5 separate regions of the Homo sapiens genome follow, and all the other regions are linked to region 2. The links come from fine-mapping of genetic effects on gene expression. A gene starts in region 2. Each other region holds a variant in brackets. All regions are shown on one strand. Distances are between the middles of the regions. Region 1 holds the start of MDM4 (MDM4 regulator of p53). Region 2 holds the start of PIK3C2B (phosphatidylinositol-4-phosphate 3-kinase catalytic subunit type 2 beta). Region 3 overlaps PIK3C2B (phosphatidylinositol-4-phosphate 3-kinase catalytic subunit type 2 beta). Region 4 overlaps PIK3C2B (phosphatidylinositol-4-phosphate 3-kinase catalytic subunit type 2 beta). Region 5 overlaps PIK3C2B (phosphatidylinositol-4-phosphate 3-kinase catalytic subunit type 2 beta).

The links.
Region 1: its variant is fine-mapped to the expression of PIK3C2B in whole blood (TOPMed, PIP above 0.99).
Region 3: its variant is fine-mapped to the expression of PIK3C2B in whole blood (TOPMed, PIP above 0.99). The same link has a PIP of 0.9 or more in sun-exposed skin.
Region 4: its variant is fine-mapped to the expression of PIK3C2B in whole blood (TOPMed, PIP above 0.99).
Region 5: its variant is fine-mapped to the expression of PIK3C2B in whole blood (TOPMed, PIP above 0.99).

The regions. Positions count from the first base shown.
Region 1 is chr1:204,513,122-204,517,513 of GRCh38, reverse strand. MDM4 (MDM4 regulator of p53) reads right to left here and starts at 1,108. Exons shown (of 11, transcript NM_002393.5): 1 at 1,005-1,108. RefSeq lists enhancers at 836-1,115, 1,146-1,225, 1,236-1,365, 804-1,714, 655-1,854 and 1 more. The variant T/C (reference allele first, on the strand shown) is at 2,085.
Region 2 is chr1:204,492,569-204,496,960 of GRCh38, reverse strand. PIK3C2B (phosphatidylinositol-4-phosphate 3-kinase catalytic subunit type 2 beta) reads left to right here and starts at 2,156. Exons shown (of 33, transcript NM_001377334.1): 1 at 2,156-2,605. It overlaps LOC124904584 (translation initiation factor IF-2), which reads right to left. Exons shown (of 2, transcript XM_047439554.1): 2 at 1,229-2,785. The coding sequence ends at 1,765. RefSeq lists silencers at 2,007-2,476, 4,036-4,115 and enhancers at 2,577-2,706, 2,777-2,966.
Region 3 is chr1:204,452,157-204,456,548 of GRCh38, reverse strand. It overlaps PIK3C2B (phosphatidylinositol-4-phosphate 3-kinase catalytic subunit type 2 beta), which reads left to right. Exons shown (of 33, transcript NM_001377334.1): 11 at 498-693; 12 at 1,758-1,880. Among named protein-coding and RNA genes, the nearest start is that of PIK3C2B, 40 kb to the left of the region's middle. RefSeq lists enhancers at 742-1,719, 3,312-3,421. The variant C/T (reference allele first, on the strand shown) is at 1,866.
Region 4 is chr1:204,439,445-204,443,836 of GRCh38, reverse strand. PIK3C2B (phosphatidylinositol-4-phosphate 3-kinase catalytic subunit type 2 beta) reads left to right here. Exons shown (of 33, transcript NM_001377334.1): 19 at 240-420; 20 at 1,204-1,311; 21 at 2,274-2,366; 22 at 3,516-3,645. Among named protein-coding and RNA genes, the nearest start is that of PPP1R15B, 30 kb to the right of the region's middle. The variant A/G (reference allele first, on the strand shown) is at 2,104.
Region 5 is chr1:204,459,532-204,463,923 of GRCh38, reverse strand. PIK3C2B (phosphatidylinositol-4-phosphate 3-kinase catalytic subunit type 2 beta) reads left to right here. Exons shown (of 33, transcript NM_001377334.1): 6 at 3,263-3,374; 7 at 3,521-3,600; 8 at 3,983-4,046. Among named protein-coding and RNA genes, the nearest start is that of PIK3C2B, 33 kb to the left of the region's middle. RefSeq lists a silencer at 1,429-1,723. The variant C/T (reference allele first, on the strand shown) is at 2,172.

The DNA of each region.
Region 1 (4,392 bases), 21 kb before region 2:
AAGAATCACTTGAACCCGTGAGGCAGAAGTTGCAGTGAGCCAAGATCGCGCCACTGCACGCCAGCCTGGGCAAAAAGAGCGAAACTCCACTCAAAAAAAACAAAAACAAAACAAAAACACAACCAAAAAAACCTGTGGTTTTCAAGCTTTAAGGTATACAAAAATCACTGGGAGGTGTGCTCATTAAAATATATTTCTCTGAGCCCCATCTCGATACTGTCTGTAGGTTTCAGTGTGGCCCCAAAACGAACATTTTTTCTTTTTTTTTTTTTGAGACGGAATCTCCCTCTGTAGCCCAAGCTGGAGTGCAGTGGCGCGATCTCGACTCACTGCAACCCCCGCCCACGGATTCAAGTGATTCTCCTGCCTCAGCCTCCCGAGTAGCTAGGATTACAGGCATGCGCCACCACACACATCTAATATTTTTGTATTTTTACTAGAGACGGGGTTTCACCAGGTTGGCCAGGTTGGTCTCGAACTCCTGTCCTCAGGTAGATCCACCCACCTCGGCCTCCTGAAGTGCTGGGATTACAGGCGTGAGCCACCGCGCCAAGCCAAAACAAGCATTTTCAAACAAGCACTCAAGTGCCTCTAAGGTAGACTGTCCGCAGACCTAAAAACTAACTTAAAAACTTAAGACACGTCAATGTCATTCTACCCGGTTCCCTCTCTCCCACCTCCTTTCTCCAAATTGCCTCAACAGTCCTCAAATGTTGTGTCCAGTTAAACTCAATCCAACTACGTCGACTTTAGGTTTGTCACCTGTTGGCCAAAGTTACTTCACGTCACCCCACCTCCACTTTTATCTTCCGCGAGCCCTCATCCCACAACTCTTCCCCTCCCCCCGAGCCCTTCTTCCGCCTGGCGCGGCCTTCCCCACGCCGCCCGACCCACCTCTCAAGCTCCTCCCGCCCGCTACCCGCACAACTGGCGGTACGGCCGCCTGCTCCTCACTCTCCAGCTCCCGCTCCCGGCACCCCGCCGACGAAGGCCAAGAGCCACACCTTACGGCAGCTCCATGAGTCGCTCCCCCGCCGAGCCCGGGTGGGGGGAGGGGTGGCAGTCACAGATCCTAGGGCCTCGGCAGCATTTTGAAATGGCGAGTAATGAAGCCGCAACTTCCGGCCTCCCACACGGCCTCACACGAGGGCTTCCGGTGAGGCCTCCGGAAACCATAGATGGAGCAATGGGAGGACTAGAGAGCTAGAAAGGCTGAGCTCACTACCATAGAGTAGATCCTAGTCCGGGGAGAGAGTCGTGGGGCCCGAACGGTTGAAAGTCGTCAGATTTGAAGAGATAATAAGTGAGGGACTTGCAGGGTCTTGTGATATTTACAGACGTGTATTAGGAGATCAGAAAACAGAGAAGAGGAAGAGCTAAGGTCATAATCACAGGCTGCCTTCAGCTCTTCGGAAAAACTACGCTTCCTCTGCCATTCCCCAGTCCTCACCCTTACTCCCCAAGGGTGGTAGGGAAGGGAAACGGAGCGATGGCGGCACTAGGGTGGCAAGGAAGCTTGAAGCCATGTCAAATAAATAGTTGAAAGCACCAGCCGCTGTGGCTCACGCCTGTAATCCCAGCACTTTGGGAGGCCTAAGGCAGGCGGATCACCTGAGGTCAGGAGTTCGAGACCAGTCTGACCAATATGGTGAAACCCTGTTTCTACTAAAAATACAAAATTAGTCGGGTGTGGTGGCGCATGCCTGTAATCCCAGCTACTCAGGAGAATCGTTTGAACTTGGGAGGCGGAGGTTGCAGTGAGCCGAGATAGCGCCATTCCAGCCTGGGCAACAAGAGCGAAACTCCTCAAAAAAAAAAAAAAAAAAGAAAAAGAAATAGTTGAAGGCTCAAGGGAGTTTTTAACCTGCATATAAACGAGGGAGGCCGGGCGCAGTGGCTCTCCCCTGTAATCCCAGCGCACTTTGGGAGGCCGAGGCGGGCGGATCACCTGAGGTCAGCAGTTCGAGACCATCCTGCCCAACATGGCGAAACCCCCGTTTCTACTAAAAATACAAAAAATTAGCGGGGCATGGTGGCGGTCACCTGTAATCCCAGCTACTTAGGAGGCCGAGGCAGGAGAATCG[T/C]TTGAACCCGGGTGGCGGAGGTTGCAGTGAGCCGAGATAGCGCCATTGCACTCCAGCCTGGGCGACAAGAGCGAAACTGCATCTCAAAAAAAAAAAAAAAAAAAAAGAGGGAAAGGGTTGAGCATAGAAATTGGAAGCTGTCTTCAAATAACTGAATAGTATAATATTGGAAATAACGGAGCCTTATTCTCTTCTCCAAAGTGCAGAACTAAAACCAATAGAAATTACAAGGCAGTATTTTTAAGCTCAGAAAATCCTCTAACATTTAGAGTTGTTCTGAAATAAATGAAATTAGGTATTTGGGGGAAGTAATGTCATTTGAAGACAGCCTGCCTGAGAGGTTTGTTGAAAGCTCTTCTATATTAGGAAACATTAAAACTGGCTGTGTAACCCAAGAAAGCTCCATCTCAGTGTTCTTTGCACCTGTCTTTTAGCATTTACCACGTATTTTTTTTTTAGTTATTTGTGTATATACCATTCTTATCTCTCCCAATAAGCAACAACAAAACCTGGCTCCCAATGCTAGATACAGACCCATGCAAAAGAACACAGGGCAGTAACCTTCCTTAAATTTGTACATTCCGCTTTGTTCTACTTCTAGCATAACCTCCTGCATAGCTGGGAGATCCAGGGTTCCATTAAGGAGCTGAAGAATTAACTTCTTTTTCATAGAAATCTGCAACCACCTCACTCACAAAAAAAAAAAAAAAAAGGTCAAGGGTGCTTTTTTAGGTGAACCACTGTCAACTATTTCCCCTGTCCTTTTGTGCAATTAGTATTTTTTAAAACTTTCAACAGGAATTTTTTTTTTGTAACTTTTAAATAGCATCTGGTTAGTTTGGATCCTTTCCTAATGTCTCCTGGAGCCTTGGAATATGATCTGTTCATGCAATTCAGTTTGTGTGAGATCAACAGGTATTTGTTGAGGCCAGGTGCAGTGGCTCACACCTGTAATCCCAACCCTTTGGGAGGCCAAGGTGGGAGGATCGTTTAAGCCCAGGAGTTCAAGACCAGCCTGGGCAAGAAAGCGAGAACACCATCTCTACAAAAAAAAAAAAAAAAAAAAAAAAAAAAAAATTAATTAGCTGAGCATCCTACTTGTGCCAAGCACCAATCTAGAGGATTCCAAAACAAGACCTGAAATCTGTCTAGTGGAGGAATCAGACTGTCCAGGTAAAAAGAATGTGGTAAGTGCAATGATTGATGAGCTGCAGTTAACCTCCTCTAGGTTAAGAGAGATAAGCCTTTTCAATTTGGGCAAAATATTGACCAACATCTTTAATTCGTCTTCATTTAAAATCTCGAGGGCCCGGCGCAGTGGCTTATGCCTGTAATCCCAGCACTTTGGGAGGTCGAGGCAGGTGGATCACGTGAGGTCAGAAGTTCGAGACTAGCCTGGCCAACATGGTAAAACACTGTCTAAAGATACAAAAAAGATTAGCCGGGTGCAGTGGTAGGCGCCTATAATCCCAGCTACTCGGGAGGCTGAGGGAGGAGAATTGCTTGAACCCGGAGGAGGAGATTGCAGTGAGTCGAGATTGCTCCACTGCACTCTAGCCTGGGTGATGGAGCCAGACTCTATCTCAGTCAATCAAAAAAAACAAAACGTTGATAAATATGTTGACGAGGCCATGGTGAAGAATAGAGTTTTTCCCATCGTGGTTGACACTGATTTGTGAGTAATTGCTCATCTTCTAATTTTTTTAAAAAAATAGACACAGGGTCTTACTATGTCGCCCAGTCTGGTCTTGAACTCCTGGCCTCAAGTGATCCTCCCCCACACCTTGGCCTCCCAAAGTGTTAGGATTACAGGTGTAATCTTATAATCCTACAGGTGGCACCCGCCAGCACGCCCAGCTAATTCTATGTGTGTGGTTATTTTGTTTTGTTTTGTTTTGTTTTGTTTTTGAGACGGAGTTCCCTTCTGTTGCCAGGCTGGAGTGCAGTGGCACGATCTCAGCTCGCTGCATTCTCCGCCTCCCAGATTCAAACGATTCTCCTGCCTCACCCTCCCAAATTGCTGGGATTACAGGCGCGTGCCACTACGCTCCAGCGTGGGCGACAGAGGAAGACTCCATCTCAAAAAAAAAAAAAAGAAGAAATGAAAGAAAGAAATGAAATTGGAAATTGGCTTAAAAACTCAACTGAGTGATCACCACTTCCTTCTTTAAGAACTATGCTCACAAACCATTGATTCGAATAAAAAGACAGGAAATCTGGGTTCTAGTCTAGCTATTTGTAGAAAACAGAAGAAGTTACACAGGTTTCCGGTCTTCAGTTCCCTAATCTGTAAAACAAAATGGCTGAA
Region 2 (4,392 bases):
AAAAGAGAGAGGGAGGGGAGAGAGAACCACCCGTGGAAGCTGTGATCTTTGGTTGAGGGTGGCAGCCAGCGCACTGTGACCCCAAAGAGAGGAATCCTGAAGAATAAATATCCAGTTTCCCCTGACCTCCCTCCTTATTCAATCTTCAGCCATGGCCCCCATTGGCCAACCCAGTCTAGGAAGCCAGAGGGCCAGGAAGATCTGGAGGGGCAAACGGAAGACATGCAGTGCATCTTCCAAATCCTTCTCTATAATATGCCAGGAAGTCTTTTTCTGGTCACACTACTTCCCAGTTCCATTTGTGCACAGCAGGTTCTCTGTCACCTACAGCACCTAAACTTTTTGGCATGCCCTGGTTTCTCTTTATTCAATTTTTTCCTTACCAAAATGCATGATAAAGCCTGTGATCTGATCCTCCACTCAGCTACCTATGCCTACTTCCTGTTAGTTCTTTCCTTCAGACTTTTCACCCCAGCAGCATAGAACCACCAGTGGTCGCCGGGCGCGGTGGCTCACGCCTGTAATCCCAGCACTTTGGGAGGCCGAGGTGGGTGGAACACAAGGTCAGGAGATCGAGACCATCCTGGCTAACACGGTGAAACCCTGTCTCTACTAAAAATACAAAAAAAAAAAAAAAAAAAAAGAAAAAATTAGCTGGGCATAGTGGCGGGCGCCTGTAGTCCCAGCTACTCCGGAGGCTGGGCCAGAAGAATGGCGTGAACCCGGGAGGCAGAGCTTGCAGCGAGCCGAGATCACGCCACTGCACTCCAGCCTGGGCGACAGAGCAAGACTCCGTCTCAAAAAAAAAAAAAAAAAAAAGAACCACCAGTGGCCCCTGTAACACTCTGTTCTCTCAGGCTCCTGAGCTTGACCTGATGACAGACACAGAGTAAGCTGTCATAAATATTTGTATGGTGAAGAAGTGCACGGACACGTTTTTTAACCCCTGTGGCTCCTGAGATCAGGAGTAGCATCATATACATTATGACATATGTGCAGACCAAGCTGCCTTCAGTTAATTATCAAGATGTTTCACCTACATTCTCTCCTTTGATCATTACGAAAGCGTGATAGGTGAGGACGCTATTCTTGATATTCAGAGGGTGAAGTGGAATACTGAAAGTCACAAGCATTGGGTACAGAAGGCACTGTAGGATCAGAAAGGGGAGTGATCCCTTTCCTCCCCATCATAAGAGTCACAGCCGACACTTCTATAACAAAAGACAAGTTAACCAGAGAAAAGCATAACAAATTTATTTAATCATGGTTTTACTTGAGAGGCTGAGGACCAGGTGTTAATCTTCATAGTCTGTCGAGAAAGAAAGAAGAAATGAGGGCAGTGGAGGAAAACACGATTCACGTTTTTAGGAAAATATACTTTGAGATTAGTGATCGTTGGTACTATGCAAACCAAATGCAAACGAGGAGCTGGCCAACTCATGGTTTCTTTTGGGTGGAGCCTTTAGGAAAATTCTTCCAGAGACCACTGCTGGAAGAAAGGTATTTAGAGTAGAAAATTTAAATATAACATATTGTATGAAAGGTTTTTTTTTTTTACTTTTTTTTCTCACTACCCTAGTTGGGTTGGAGGATCCTCTATCTCCCCTCCCTACTTAGGTTGACTGCTGTTTCCTGGATCGCAGCTCGGAAGATCCACCTGGGCGAATACAAAAACAAACGAGACTCCCCTTCCAGAAAGGGAGGAAGGAAGGAGACAGAAAGACGAATGACACTGAGCGTGTAAAGCCCGGAGACAGCCTCTCTCTACCCCAACCTAACCCTCAAGGTAGGGGATCCCCCGAACATCGCTACCGTAATTATGGTAGAAATTCCTGAAACGGATAACTGGACCTCAGCACCGTCATTTCTAGCAGAATGATTGAGCTTTCCTCTGACCCAAAGCCAAGGGGTTCCAGCAGGGGAAACTAACGACCATCCGCAAAAACCCTCACCCAAGTGGGGAGTGGAAATCCTGGCTCTTGGGTTGCAGAGCACAACTTGACGCCAGCGCGTTTCTCTTCCCCCACGCAATGGCAAGTGGGGCGGGAGTCGGAGGGGAGAGGAGGAGAGGAGAAGAGAAGAGGAGGGGGAAGGGGAGGGGAGAGGCGAAGGGCGGCCCGGGTTCCAGCAGCCGCCCCGCCCTCCGGCTCGCGGCGGATTCGGCGCTGCGGCTGGAGCCGGCGGCCGGGTGCCTGCCTGTCCAGGCAGGGTCTGGCCGAGCGTCGCGTCGCCGTGCAGTGCGCCGGGTGTCCGGGAGATGGCTTCCCCTCTCTCGCCCGCTGCTGCCGCTATTGTCTCACCCGGGGTGGCCTGACTCTGCGAGCTCGCGCACGCTCTCGGCGGAGAGCACCCCTCCCCACCCCCACAAGCTGGTCCTTGCGCCCTTTGCTGCCTCTCCCTCTGCCCCTTGGAGCCTAGGGTCTGTGCGGAGCCTGGAGAGGGGAGCGGCCCGGGAGCAGGCGGCGTGCGGCCGGCCAGCTCCTCTCGCGCTGGTGCAAGAGGCGCCTGGAGCCGCAGAGCGAGCCCGGGAGGCGCGGAGCGAGCAGCCCACGTCGCCAGGCACAAGACACGTCGGATGTTGCAGCAGAGCCAGCAGCTAGCGCAGGTAGGACACGCATCCTGCGGGTTGCATCGGCCCCAGCGTCTGTAAAGTGCCCCCAGAGTGGAGGCAGCCGAGGTCAGGGGGCTCTCCCTCCAACATGGCAACAGCGGAGGTGCAACAATGGAAGCAGCCGAGGGTTCCTGGCGGCGGGCTGAGCGGCGGACGCCGTGGGAGCCTGAGCTCCTGCCCGCCGGGCAGAGCAGGTTGCCCCTCACCCCACTCCACTCCACTCCAGCAGCTTCAGGGCCTCTGGGGCTCCAGGCACCCGCGTCCCCACCCCCTTCTCGCTAAACACACTTCCTGGCTCCCAGCTGCAGGGCGATCTGAACCAGTCAATGGCTTTGGGGTTTGTTTATTTAAGATAAGAAATAAAAAAAGCAAAACCTGTCCTGTGATGGGGTTAGTGCCTTCTGTGGACTGGGTGAGAAGTCGGCATCTAGCCTGGGGAATGTGTACGTTTCTTAGTCGGGCGGAGGGTAGAATTGGATTCTCCCTTATAAGGATACTGCAGCAAAAGGAGACTGAAAGCTTGAAAGAGGGAGAGGGACCCTCAGGCCTGAGTTCGCCGGTGCTGGGAGAAGGCGCTGCTCTCCTGGCCTATACTTGTCCCTCATTTTCAGCTCCCGACAGCGGTGACTTTGATGTTGGAGGAGCAATCGCAGCAGGAAGCACAAGCAAGGCTGCCAAGCTGGTGTGGGGTGGAGTAGGGTGGGGAGCCCAGGGGCTTGGCAGGCTTCTGGATTGTGGGAAGAGGTTACCAAATGTATGAGGTTAGTGCACACACCCTAGTTGGCTGATGTTGAAGTGTGTGTGTGTGTGTGTGTGTGTGTGTGTTTTCTGCCATTGCTCTTGCTCCTTCAGGCCTGCCTTTTCTCCTCTCCACCCGCTTCTGGGGTCTTCGTAGCTTCCCTGCCCCAGCCCTTCCAATCATGCCTGGGATGGAATCGCTGTATTGTCTCTGGCAGCTCTCTTGGGCTGTTTTTTCTCAACTCTGTTGGAGAGTTTTGTACCCTGGGCTGGCTGGTCCCAGCATGGCACCAGATTCTTTAGCAGGCGGCTACCCGGGCTCCAAGAAGTGGGCCAATGCTGCCCCTCCTCCTTGCTCTAAACTACCTATTTGGGATATGGCCAGGCAGATGTAAGCAATTTGTACTAAATTCCAACCCTGAATCAGTGCTGAATGAAAACTTACTCTGTTGCTGCATCAGGCTTTGGGAAGATATTAGGAAGAGAAATGGCCCAGGAGGTGGCAATGCCGACCCCCAAATACTTCCCTCTCCCCAACTCCAGCTGCCGATCCCAGAGCAGACAGGCAGTGAGACTTTGGAATCCCAGCTCCTCCAGAGTCTGGCTGGCCCATCTTGAGGTTGTGTCCATGGAAAAATTAAGTCGAGGCACATTTTATAGCTCTGCTTGGCAGCCAGCATCTGAAGAGATGGTGGCTCTGAGCTGGAGCCCTAGACCCAGGCTGTGGCTGCTTCTCCTTTGGCCTTTGGGTGAGCCTGAGGTTTGATTGCCATGGCTCTGAGCTTACTGCTGAGTGTGTATGGCTGAATCTGATCAAGCTCTCAGACCCGGCTGCTTGTCTATTTCCTTCTCCACTGGAAGCATGAGTGAGAAAGGGCCAAGGGGGTGTGCTGGGTGAGGAAGGGTCAGTTTATCTGGGGACTTGGGCTGTTTCTGGGGGAGCTCCTTTGGACTTCCTTGGTGGTCTGGAATGCCTTTGGTCTTTGTCATGACCTAGTATGCTCTGGCAGATACTCTATACCCTCGTGGGCCTTTGGTCCCCG
Region 3 (4,392 bases), 40 kb after region 2:
GACTGACCTATATCCCTGGGATTCCTTTGTTTTGGTTTTGTTTTTTGTTTTGGCATCCCTGGGATTCTTATGGTGATTCCCAGTCTTTTGGATTTCATAGACCAGTAAAATGTCCCCCAAAGTATTTGGGGGACCAAGAGAGAATTGGCAGCCTTTTACTTGGCCAAACTTTTTTGACTTTTGCTTTTTTGAAGCAACTGACAATAATTATTAACACTGTTTCCTAAAAGAAAGGACATTTTAATGCTAAGTAGCAATACGTAAAAATAAGGATTATGTTTAACATTGTATAACTGTCATTTTATGAAAAGCTCATGACATGCTTCTGCTTTTTTCTCATTTTACCGCAGATGGGTGAACTTTGTCACAGCTATTAGAGACTGACTAGCATTTGGGGACCACTGTCTTAGGCCATCCCATTCTAGCCAATGCCATGGCAACAAGGTAGGGCTTGTGGAGGCCTCATGACTTTCCCTTCTGACCCCTTCCCTTCCCAGAGAAGGTCGTGGAAGCCCTGACCGCTGCCATCTTGGACCTGGTGGAGCTGTACTGCAACACATTCAACGCAGACTTCCAGACGGCAGTGCCCGGGAGCCGCAAGCATGACCTGGTCCAGGAGGCCTGCCATTTCGCCAGGTCCCTGGCCTTCACTGTCTATGCCACCCACCGCATCCCCATCATCTGGGCTACCAGGTGAGCCCAGGGCTGAGTAGCCGCTAGGGAGCAAGCTGAGTTTGACCTCCACCAGGGCTTTTTCCTATCTGCATGTAATACCACTGTCCTAAGTCTTAGGATGTGTGGCATTGTGTGACATTGTGGTGCAATGGGGCTGCGGGGGTGAGCCAAGTGCCTGAGGAGGACTTGGGCTGGGGACATCCTAGAGGAGAGAGGAGGTCCCTTAGGAGATGAAGAAGATCCTGTTATTCCCTCTTGGTGCTGGCTGCCTCTGCATCCCTGCCCCCTCCAGATCCAAGACCAGTGGAAGGAGACATGGCAACAGATGGCCGATTCCCAGATAGAGTGCACGCTCCCTGGCCAGTGGGAGGGGGTGGGGAGGTGGGATTGACCCTTTGTCTGGGGTTCTCTAGGCCTGCAGGGGTGGGTGGAGGAGGATGTTCTTTTGGTAAAATCCTCAGCGCCTCTGTTGGGTCCCCAGCATCCAAGGCCTGAGGGAATAGGCACTGGGCCCTACCCCGCCCCTGCCGGTCCCCTTTCCCCAACCCCCTTCCCCTTCTCTCTTTGTTCCTTACTTAATGTATTCCTCTGGGCGATTGGCAGAGAACAAAGGAGGCAGCCTGGGAAACCGGGGCCTTCTCTGACCTCTTCTGTCAGGCACCTGTCATGAGCCACAGGGACCCCCGTGTGTTGGCATTCATGTCGGCATATGTCGTCTTCCTCCCCCACCCTTCTCACTTGCGCATGCACGTGCACGCGCACACACGCACGCACACACAGACGCTCCATGGGCTGGAGCTTTCTATAAAGAGGCTGGGTGGCCAGTTCCCATTAAAGGAAGAAAAACAACAAGGCTCAGAATGGAGCCTAAAACCGAGCAGAGGAATCTAGATTGAGTTGCTTTGGCCTGAGCACATTTCCTTACATCCAGTTTGGCTGTCCTATCCGGAGATCCTGTGTTACAGCCCTCAGAGACTGAGAGTTTTACCAGGGGAAATGGATTTTGGCCTTAGAGGGACGCATAGGTTTGGGTGATTGGTTTTGGGAGCTGGGTGTCCTGACCTGCTCCCTTTCTTTTATAGCTATGAAGATTTCTACCTCTCCTGCTCCCTCAGCCATGGCGGCAAGGAGCTGTGCAGCCCCCTGCAGACCCGAAGAGCTCACTTCTCCAAGTACCTCTTCCACCTCAT[C/T]GTCTGGGACCAGCAGTAAGCCCTTCCCCCAGGCTTCAGTGCCCAGGCCACTGTAGACCTGCTCAGCCTCTGAAATATCCCTGGGGCCAGATAACTAGTCCAGGACTAATGATAAAACCAGGCTCCTTGTTAACCCTAACTGGACAAGTCATTCAACCTCTTGAGTCTCCACTTCCCTGACTCTTTTTTTTTTTTTTTTTTTGAGAGGCAGCCTCGCTTTGTTGCCCAAGCTGGAGTGCAGTGGTGCGATCTCGGCTCACTGCAAGCTCTGCCTCCTGGGTTCACGCCATTCTTCTGTCTCAGCCTCCCGAGTAGCTGGGACTACAGGCGCCCGCCACCACGCCCAGCTAATTTTTTGTATTTTTAGCAGAGATGGGGTTTCCATGTGTTAGCTAGGATAGTCTCGATCTCCTGACCTCGTGATCTGCCCGCCTCGGCCTCCCAGAGTGCTGGGATTACAGGCGTGAGCCACCACGCCTGGCCTCCACTTCCCTGACTCTTAAAGGAGCCAAGTATAATTACCACTTCTCAAGTTGTCATGAGGATCCAATGAGAAGTATCTATAAAGGCTCTTTGTAAACCATAAAAAACATATAAATTTTAGTTGTTGACCAGGCGCGGTGGCTTACGCTTGTAATCCCAGCGCTTTGGGAGGCCGAGGCGGGCGGATCACCTGAGGCAGGGAGTTCAAGACCAGCCTGACCAACATGGAGAAACCTCGTCTCTACTAAAAAAAATACAAAATAGCCGGGCATGGTGGCGCATGCCTGTAATCCCAGCTACTAGGGAGGCTGAGGCAGGAGAATCGCTTGAACCCGGGAGGTGGAGGTTGTAGTGAGCTGAGATCGTGCCATTGCACTCCAGCCTGGGCAACAAGAGCGAAATTCTGTCTCAAAAAAAAAAAAATTAAATGTTAGTTGTTAATTTTAATAATACTTTATTTTTTGATCTTGTCTCCCTTAAAGAGTTTAACTAGTTGGAGGGCTTCTCATCCTCTCCCTTCTTCCCTCAGTTCCTGTAGACTATGGAGAGGAGACTGTGCTTTTCCCTTTATATATAGAGAAGGGAGGGTTGTCTAGAGAAAGAATATTGAGCTTGGATTCCCAGGAGTGAGCCTCTATTTCTAGCTCTGTCTCGAATACTACTTTCTCTCTATTCTTTCTGTGCCTCATTTTTTCAAACTGAGAAATGGGGACATTGGTTTCACTCAGAGGCAGTTATGGCGTCGAGATGAGATAGGTGGGTTATAAATATAAATATGAAACCAAAAGCACAAGGTAATATTAATCACCACATGTAAACAATAATTTGGTGTCGGGAAGGTAGGCGTCAGCCAAGCAAAGCAGGAAGGAAACGGAGGAGAGGGTGCCTTGCTTGAATGGGGGCACCGCAGGGGTTTTCCTGCCCTGTGCTTCATCTGTGCTATGCTCTACCTTCCTTCCAGTCAGTCAGAAAATCCCCTGTTTGCTGCCCCCGGCTTTGCTTCCCCACACTGACTATATTAGAGTCCTCATTTGCAGAGCAGCACTGCAAGCTAAGTATTTGTAGCACAGATTAAAGAGACTGAGGAGGGTCCTGGGGAGGCCGAGGATGCAAAATAGGTAGATGAAGAATCTGGAGATGCTGGAAGAGGTGGGTCCTTTTACAGATGGACAACTGGGAAAATGGACCCTTTCTCATGCCCTTCACACTTAGGTAATTCTTAGAGCAATAAAGGTGTATATGGCTGGGCACGATGGCTCACACCTGTAGTCTCACCGTACTTTGGGAGGACAAGGCGGGATAATCACTTGAGATCAGGAATTTGAGACCAGCCTGGGCAACACAAAGAGGCCTTATCTCTACTAAAAAATTATTTTAAATGAGCTGAGTGTGGTGGCGTGCATCTGTAGTCCTAGCTACTTAAGAGGCTGAGGTGGGAGAGTCACTTGAGCCTGGGAGGTCGAGGCTGCAGTGAGCCATGATCACACCACTGCACTATAGCCTGGGCAACAGAGTGAGACCCTATCTTAAAAAAAAAAAAAAAAAAAAAGGACATGGGGTGTGCATTAAAGGTCCTCAAGCAAACAACTGCCAGGACAGGAGAAACTCCTTGCAGGCAGAGGATAGCTGCATTAAATGGCCCTTGAGTTCCACCATTCCCTTGGGATTTTTTGGTCACAATTACTGCTGCTGTCAAGAGAAGGGGTGCCAGCCTGGGCAACAAGGGAGACCCAATCTCTACAAAAAATACAAAAAATTAGCCAAGTGTGGTGGCATACACCTGTGGTTCCAGCTACTTAGGAGGCTGAGGTGGGAGAATCACTTGAGCCTGGGAGGTCAAGGCTGCAGTGAGTATCCAGCCTCGGCAACAGAGCGAGACCCTGTCTCAAAAAAAAAAAAAAAAAAAAAAAAAGGGTGCTGCACAGTGTTCTGGCCCAGGAGGAACTTTAAAAAATTGGCCTTAAACCCTTTACTCATACAGTATCAGAGGTAGAGAGGCAGCCCAGCCTGCCCCATGAGTTTCATTTTGTTCCCTGAGATCCCC
Region 4 (4,392 bases), 53 kb after region 2:
AAGGAGAAACAAGATGCAGAGGGGCTGTGAACTCTACTTAAAGACAGAGTGAGGGCACAGACTGGGGTATGGGCACAGGTGAGCATCTCCATATGAGCCGTACATACAGAATGTATTTTCCCTCCCAAGTTCGGGGTGGGTTTTGCAGTGAGTTGGAGCTGGGCCTGACTCTGTCTCCCCCTGTACCCTTGCCTTTGATCCCTGGAGTGCCCTGACTCCTGACTCCCTCTGCCTTGCAGGTTACTGAAGGACGGCCTCAAGGACTCTCAGTTCAGCATCCGCTACCAGTATCTGCTGGCAGCCTTACTGTGCTGCTGTGGCAAGGGGCTGAGAGAAGAGTTTAACCGCCAGTGCTGGCTTGTCAATGCCCTGGCCAAACTGGCCCAGCAGGTCCGGGAGGCAGCCCCATCTGCAAGGCAGGTTAGTGGGGTGAGGCTGCCCCTACCCATTTCTCATCCAGGGCTTTGGCAGCCAGTTTCTTCTTAGGAATCCTGAACAACAAGATTCCACGTGACGATTTTTGATTTTGGAGCGGGGAGCAGCTGACTCTGGAAACTAGGCCGTAAACAGGCAGTCCACAAGCTGGATACAGCCCGTGGATGTGTTTTGTTTGTCCTGTAAAATATTGAAATTTATTTAGCTGTTTGTTTTAAAGGCTAAGCACAGTTGTGTAAGTTGTTCATTGCACAAGAGCACTCAGCCAGAAGGGGCAAGTGAGGGCTGAAATCCAGCCATATTTTGTTCACCATGCTGTGACCCATGGCTCAGGCCTGATGCCACCCAGAGAGGACACCTTTATCTGTTTGTACGAAGACATTGTAACCAGCCAGCAGTGTTCCTGGTTAACGACATTTAAAAATTGAGAGATTTTGTATCAACGTCCAGATTGTTAGCTTTTCTTGGCAGAAGCCTAAATAGCTCTTCCCCCTTGAGAGACAGCCTGCCCTCTCTGTGCACTGTGGCCTGCTTCATGCTGTTCTGCCATCTGCTCCCCTCTAGAGCTATTTGGTCTTGCTGTTAGCGTACAGTCCCAGGCTGGGGTGTAGGGGGTCCTCCTCCTTAAGGATCTTCTGGAGGGTGTCCACACTTCTCAGGGGGTGGTTTTCATACCGACTACTACGGAGAACCCACCCCTGGGAGAGGTCTGGTTCTCAGTATGGACCCTCCATTTCACCCCTGCTGTACTCCTCCCCTTCTTTCCAGGGAATCCTCCGCACGGGCCTGGAGGAGGTGAAGCAGTTCTTTGCCCTCAATGGCTCGTGCCGCTTGCCACTCAGCCCCAGTCTGCTGGTTAAGGGAATTGTGCCCAGGGTGAGTGACTGGTAGGTTTGGGGCTCTCAGAGTGGGAGGGCTCAGTGGAGGTGAGGTCTTCACTAACCAGGCATGCAAGGTCGAGGAGCTGAGTTGTCTGGGCGTCAGTATGTTGCTAACTTACCATGTGGTCTTGGCCTAGCATCTTTTCCTCAGGGGTCTCAGCTCACCCCCATGCAACATGGTGAGGATTATGTTATCCTGTCTCTCCTCTACCCACACATGGCAGAAATAGAAAGGAGAAACGAGGCAGAGGGGCTGTGAACTCTGCTTAAAGACAGAATGAGGGCACAGACGGGGGTATGGGCACAGGTGAGCATCTCCATATAAGCCATAAAATAAGAGAGAGATTAGGAAGAAAGGCATATCTGTGGCCTCTTCCCATTCCTAATGTGTATGGACTTTTAGAAGCCTGACAGCTTGCAGGGTAGAGGAATTGGGTTGGAGGTTGGGCGGCTAGGCAGGTGTCTTTCTCTGATGATGTTGGGGATGAAGTCGGAGGTGGTGGTGGTGATAGCAGCTGTCATCTGTCATTTATTGAGCACTCTCTGTGCCCGGCCCTGTTCTGAGTGCTTAATGTTGGTTATGGCATTTCATCTTCACAACTCTTAGGATGTTGGTACTATTGGGAGTCCCCTTTTACAGAGGAGTAAACTGAGGTGTAGATGGGACATGTGACTTACCAGAGGTCACACAACTAGTAAGTTGTGCGCAGAATGAACTAACAGGATGGGAGGTTAAGTGCTGGAGCTGAGGTCATAACAAACTGAATTGGGATGATGACTATTTAAC[A/G]AGAGAAGGAAGGAAATTGGGTTTCTGGGAAATCCGGAAGAAACAATGAGCAGGTCTTGGGTGGACCGGCAGCAGCGGGGAGGCAGCATCTTGGTCTGAAGTGGAGAGGTCGTTTTCCTTTCCTGGCATGGGCCACTCTGACCCTCGTCACTATCTTTTCACCATGGCAGGACTGTTCCTACTTCAACTCCAATGCTGTCCCCCTCAAACTCTCCTTCCAAAATGTGGATCCCCTGGGTGAGAACATCCGTGTCATCTTCAAGGTGAGAATACTTTACTCAAGCCTGGTGGACCAGGGTGGGAGAGAGAAGGAGGCAGCCTAGAGTGGCATTAAGTAGCCCCTGGGTGGTTCTCTTCCCACTGTTCCATGCTGTCTTAATGTAGGAAAGATGATCAGGTGAAAAAGGATTTAGATGAATTCTGCATGGCCCCAGAGGCCTAACAACAGAGTGTTAGGTATAGGGAGGCAACTGGCAGCTCAGTATCCCGAAGTGCTTTCTAGGAGGCAGAGCTCCCTCAACAATGGGTTGGGTAAGGTGGTGATCCGCTTGTCCCTTGGGTATTCAGGCAGAGGCTGAATGCCATGTGGCAGGGCTGCTGAAGAGGAAATTAATATATCAGGTGCAGGTCCAACTAGATGAACCCTAAGGTCCCTTCTAACTCTGATGTATCCACAATTCTGAGAAGTAAATGATAGTCTCAGAGCATATAATCTAATGGGGGAGACAAAATACATGCATGTGACTTAGTAACTTATATATTTGCTATGCGCAAGTTCCAAATCCAAAGTCTAAACGTTCAAGTTTAAAAAAGGCCTGATGGCCTGGGTGTGGTGCCTCATGCCTATAATCCCAGCACTTTGGGAGGCTGAGGCATGCAGATCATTTGAGGTCAGGAGTTTGAGACCAGCCTGGCCAAGATGGTGAGACCCCATCTCTACTAAAAATATATATATATATATATATATAAATTAGCTGGGCGTGGTGGCAGGCACCTGTAATTCCAGCTACTTGGGAGGCTGAGGCATGAGAATCACTTGAACCTGGGAGGCGGAGGTTGCGGTGAGCTGAGATCGTGCCACTGCACTCCAGCCTGGGTGACAAAGTGAGACACTGTCTCAAAAAAAAAAAAAAAAAGGCCTGATGGTCAGAGGGGCTGCATGCAGAAGCAGACCGTGAATTTAATTCAGATGGGGCCATGGGATTGCAGGACAAGCTGGAACAACACATGGGCAAACTGGGAAGCTTCCTGGGCCATCTTTGACCTGGTGTGAGCTGAGTGAGCAGGTCAGGGGTGTGAGGCTGGGGAACTCCCTGTCACTGTTAGTTTAGGGCCAAGGTTGAGCACTTGGGAGACCTGAGAGCTGGGGAGGTAGTGGAGATTAGATCTGGTCACTTTCTCCCTCCATCCAGTGTGGGGACGACCTTCGCCAGGACATGCTAACGCTGCAGATGATTCGCATCATGAGCAAGATCTGGGTCCAGGAGGGGCTGGACATGCGCATGGTCATCTTCCGCTGCTTCTCCACCGGCCGGGGCAGAGGTCAGTTGGGAGTAGGGGTGAGGGTGGAGGAGGGGACCGCTTTGCTTATTGTCCTTCTGCCCATTGCCAACACAAACTGTGTCCTCCTCCAGGAAAGTGAAAAGGGCAAGATTATTTCATGAGAAGCTGTGGGATAGCCTTAAAAGGGAGGCATGGGAGAAGACTGTTATAAAGTAAAACAGACTTGGTGCCGTGACAGCCAAGCATATTGTGTAGACTTTGGATCCTGATTAAAACAAACCAATTGTAAGGAAATATTTTTTGGGCCAGACATGCTAGCTCATGCCTGTAATCCCAGCACTTTGTGAAGCTGAGATGGGAGAATTGCTTGAGCTCAGGAATGTTTGGGACCAACCTAGACACCTCATCTCTAATAAAAATTATAAAAAATTAGCCAGGCCTAATGGCATGTGCCTGCAGTCCCACCTCCTCGGGAGGCTGAGGCAGATGGATCGCTTGAGTCCAGGAATTTGAGGCTGCAGTAAGCCATGATGGTGCCACTGTACTTCAGACCAGGCGACAGAATGAGACCCTGTGTGAAAATATATATATAGAGAGAGAGAGAGAAGGAGAGAGACAGTTGGGGGAAGTTTGAATATAGATTGAGTTAGATTAAAGAGTGATTGTTAATTTTTTGGATGTGACAATGGCATGGTGTCTTTGTTAATTACACTTGAAATATTTATGAGTGAAATAAAGTATCTGGGATTTGCTTTAAAATACTCCAACCAAGGTGGCAGGGAGTGG
Region 5 (4,392 bases), 33 kb after region 2:
CAGCTCCGCCCCAATCCCACAGTCAAGACTCCTGCTTTCTGGGCACACTCTCGGCCACGTAGCACTTTCCCCAGGAGCTCTGTCTTCCAGCAGGGTTGGCTGACGTCCTGAGCCAAGTCTGCTGTGGAAAGAGCTTGGAGCTGGGATTAGGCAAAGACTAGGTCATATCTGCTTGCAGATTCTGCTTATGGAGAGATGTGTGTATTTGTGGGGAGGGGTGGGCTTGGGGAGACTATATGGGTAGTGCTGTATCTCCTGCTCTAGATTATGTGTGGTGTTTTTATGGCTGGGGCAAAATGAGGACTGGGCAGAAGTTCCCTTGTGGAGCCCAGGGGAGAAATTACAATTACTGTCTCTCCCCATTCTCCTGCCAACAAGTCTTTTCCCCAGCTGGCCCGTGCAGCTAGTTATCCTCCTCCCAAAGGCGTGCCTCCAGCTCCTCTCCATCCAGTGCCCTCTCTGGAAAGCAGCCTCCCTGGAAAGTCTGATGTGGACCAGCTGAGGCAACCCCCTTTCCACTACCCTGGGCTCTGGAGGGCTGCAGTGGAAGAGAGGCAGGGGCAAGGTTATCACTTCTCAGATGGTACAGCTGTGTGACAGCAGACAGATAAGATCTGCTTTCCTCTCTTAGGCTTCAGAGCCGCTCCTGCCCCCAGTCTCTGTCCACTTGGAGGAAGCACGTTTTGGGAATAGAGAAAGGAGAGACCTGTGTCTCACTTCTTAGGAGTGCCCTATAAGTGCCACTGCTTGCTTTTTCTCTCTCTTACATTCAGGTCTAGATGCAAGGATGGTTGATCTATGTCTAGAGCATAAGATTTGGCAGTCAGGATGGAAGATTCATTTCTGGACTTCTTTCTTTTTTTGAGACAGAGTCTCACTCTGTCGTGCAGGCTGGAGTGCTGTGGCGCCATCTCACTCAGCTCACTGCAACCTCCGTCTCCCAGGCTCAAGCGATTCTCATGCCTCAGCCTCCTGAGTAGCTGGGATTACAGGCATAAGCACCACCACGCCCGGCTAATTTTTGTATTTTTTAATAGAGACTGGGTTTCACCATGTTGGCCAGGCTGGTCTCGAACTCCTGACCTCGGGTGATCTGCCCGCCTTGGCCTCCCAAAGTGCTGGGATTACAGGTGTGAGCCACTGTGCCCAGCTATCTGGGCTTATTTCAAATTTAAGGATATTGTGGGGTCCTTTCTGGCCTCTGCCTCCTCATCTCGAAGCTAAGGGAAAGGAAAGAGGCAGGGTTCTGTATGGTACAACTCCAGGGTACCCTTCAAATGTGCCCCACCTTTAAACTCACTTATGTACACACTTTTCCCCTAGAGGAACAGGAGGGGTCCTAGACTCAGGGTTGCCTGGCAGAGAGAGTGCCAGGTGGCCTGCCACTGTTAGAAGGGAAAAAGGGGACATAGTGGATAAGTTGGAGCTCCTGCTGACGCCATTACACAGGTTTGAATTCGGACTTGCCACTTACTAGTTGTGAAGGCTGATTGATGCTCAGGGCCCTCTGTAAGCTGCAGTGAGGGTGAAATGTGAGAATGACCTGTGAGCAATCAGTAAATACCAGCAGGGAAGGAGCAGCCCACGGAGAGAAGTCCTAGGGCTCTGGGCTGCACAGATACTGCCATTTCCCTTGCAGCACCCCAAATCCTGGAGCCCCTGGGTCCGGAGGTAGTGGGAGCTGTCAAGTTCTACCTTCCTGCTAAGACTCAGGTGAAATATTCTTAGTGAGGTGGGACAGGGTCAGCGGTCCTCAGATCACACCCCTCATACTCTCACTTGAATGCACAGAGAGGAAGGCCTTCCACAGAGAAGATCAAGCAAGTCCCCAGGGGACCTGTGTGCATGACTCCTGGCCTAGGAGCCCCACTCCCACCCAACAGAAAAGCACAATGCTGTCTCCTGGCCCAGCCCCCAGACCCCCAACACATGACAACTGCCTGGGATGGGGGTGGAAAGGACGCTCCGGGGGTTCCAGAAATCTGCTAGTTCCCAAGGAAGCCCTGAGATTTTCTACCCCTGCCTGGCAGGAGGGGCTGATACTGAGGGGGTGAGTGGGTTCAGGATGCAGGCTGCTCTCAGATAAGAACCTTGAGGCAGTCCCGTGGGAGGGTTGGGTTTCCTGCCACCTCCCCCAGCCCCACCACACTCTTCCTTCCTCCCAGGCTCTC[C/T]CACCAGGCCCAGCCCCACAGCCCAGCCTCACCACCTCCAGGTTTTGGCTGCACTTCAGTCTTAGATCTGAGAGGGTCTAGATCGGAGATTTGGTCCTCTCAGGATGTGGAGAACCCCTCACTCGAGCCCTCATGGGACCTAGACGACCCTGGGCCCTGCACCTCCGCCAGCTTTTACATATACTGCCCCCCTTATGCTCCTGTCCTCTCCTCTCCATTTCTGGCCTAGATTCCCAGCTCTGCTGAGGAAGGAAGTCCTTTTCCGGCTTCTGTTACCCAGCTGCTGAGGCCAGGCCCAGGCCTGCAGTGCTGGCCTGGAGGTAGTTCTCCCTCTGCCCCTCCTCTTGGGTTTCCTTGCTGTTGAAGGTGTGATTTGGGAGAGAGGAAGAGGTTGGATCGCCGAGGGCTCCTAGGCCTTCTCTCTGAAAGGGGGAGTCTCACACATGGGTGCTTGAGCAGGTGGGACTGGCATGCATTTGGGACTTTTCAAGAAGTCATAGAAATTTGTAAGGTTATTCACAAGCAGGCAGGGCCAACAGATGGAAGGCAGAAAAAGAAGTTGGGTGGGGACACTGATCTGGAGGCTTGGTAGGCTTGCCCCAAGTTTTTTTGGCCTCAGCACCCTAGTTGGTAGCATTGGAAGAGGGGTCTCTCGCTGAGCTCCCACCCTGGAGCCTGAGCACAGGTGGACTCCAACATGTCTCTTCCTGGTTGTCCCCTATACAGAGGCCCAGAAGATAGGGCTTCAGCAACTGCTCCCTGTGATGTGCCTCTGTTTCCCCGCTCTCTCCAACAGTTCCCAGCCCTGGAGTGAACCAGTGATTACCACACGGGTAATAAATATCTAAGAGAGTCAATATTTATACCGGCCAAGGATTAAGTATATTAGGTGGCTTTTGTTTAGATAGACCTCTGTTCCTTCTCCTAAGCTCTACCGTGTCATTTTCTAGGAGCCAAAGTAGGGTACAACACGGGTACTACCCCCTTACCTAAACCTTCTTTCTGTATGTCTCTCCCCAAGGCTAAGGTATGTATCTCCCTTGCCACTGAGTCCCCAGGATGCTAATGGTCTTGTCCCTCTACCCTACCAGCAAGCATGCCTTGGGCAGTCATGAGTACATCCAATACTGCCGCAAGTTTGACATTGACATTCGGCTACAGCTGATGGAGCAGAAGGTTGTGCGCAGTGACCTGGCCCGGACGGTTCGTGTGAGGGTGGTGGAGGGTTGCCCAGGGCTGGGGAGGTGGAATGGGAATACAATATAGAACACATCAGGTGGGAGGGGGGTAGGAGTGCTGAGCTGAGATAAGGGCACCGCCCCTCTCTGAATAGGTCACTTCTTATACAGGTGAATGATGACCAGAGCCCCTCCACCTTGAACTACCTCGTCCATCTCCAAGAGAGGCCTGTCAAGCAGACCATCAGCAGGTGAGTGTGGGCACCATCTTGGATGTGCTCCAAACAAGAACTGTGCAGGGATCCCATCAGATGTGCCTGCTTGCCTTTCTGTCAGGGCTAAGGGATTCTTGCAGGTGTCAGGGGTTGGGGCCCACACATCTTATCAGAGAAGATCCCCACTCCAGGCATGTTTCATTTCTTCCCTCTGGAACTTTGCCATCATTCTCTCCAGGCGAGAAGTGGCAGAATAGAAAGACTCTCCCTCTATATGTCTTCACAGGACATATAGAAAGAGTGGGAACTCCTTTAAATCAGAGTGTGAGCTGAGGAGAGGGAGGGAGAAAATGGGTTTCCCAGGGCACTGGGTCTTTCATGACCTCTCCTGTGGTTTTTCCCTGCCCCCAACTCCCAGGCAGGCCCTGAGTCTTCTGTTCGACACTTACCACAATGAGGTGGATGCCTTCCTGCTGGCTGATGTGAGTACGAATCCAGGGGCTGGCCCTGCTGCCCGAAAGCTCCTCCTCTCCCCTTCCTCAGTCCTCCTGGGATCACCCAGCACTATGAGGGGTCTGGGTGGAGCCTGAAAATCTGTTGGCAGAGCACTTCTTTTTAACCCCTCGCTCATGGGCAAACTAAGACTACTAGATGTTGGGCAACGGCAAGTGCGTAGTCAGGGATTCTGCTCCTCTATAGAAGAAGCAGGTCGGAAACTGCATGCTGGTCCCATTCTCTGGAATAGGATGTCTCCAGAGCTAAGGAACCTAGAGCTGTCACCCCCCAGCTGCTGCACTTGATGTACACTGGAGCATGCATCCTATGAGC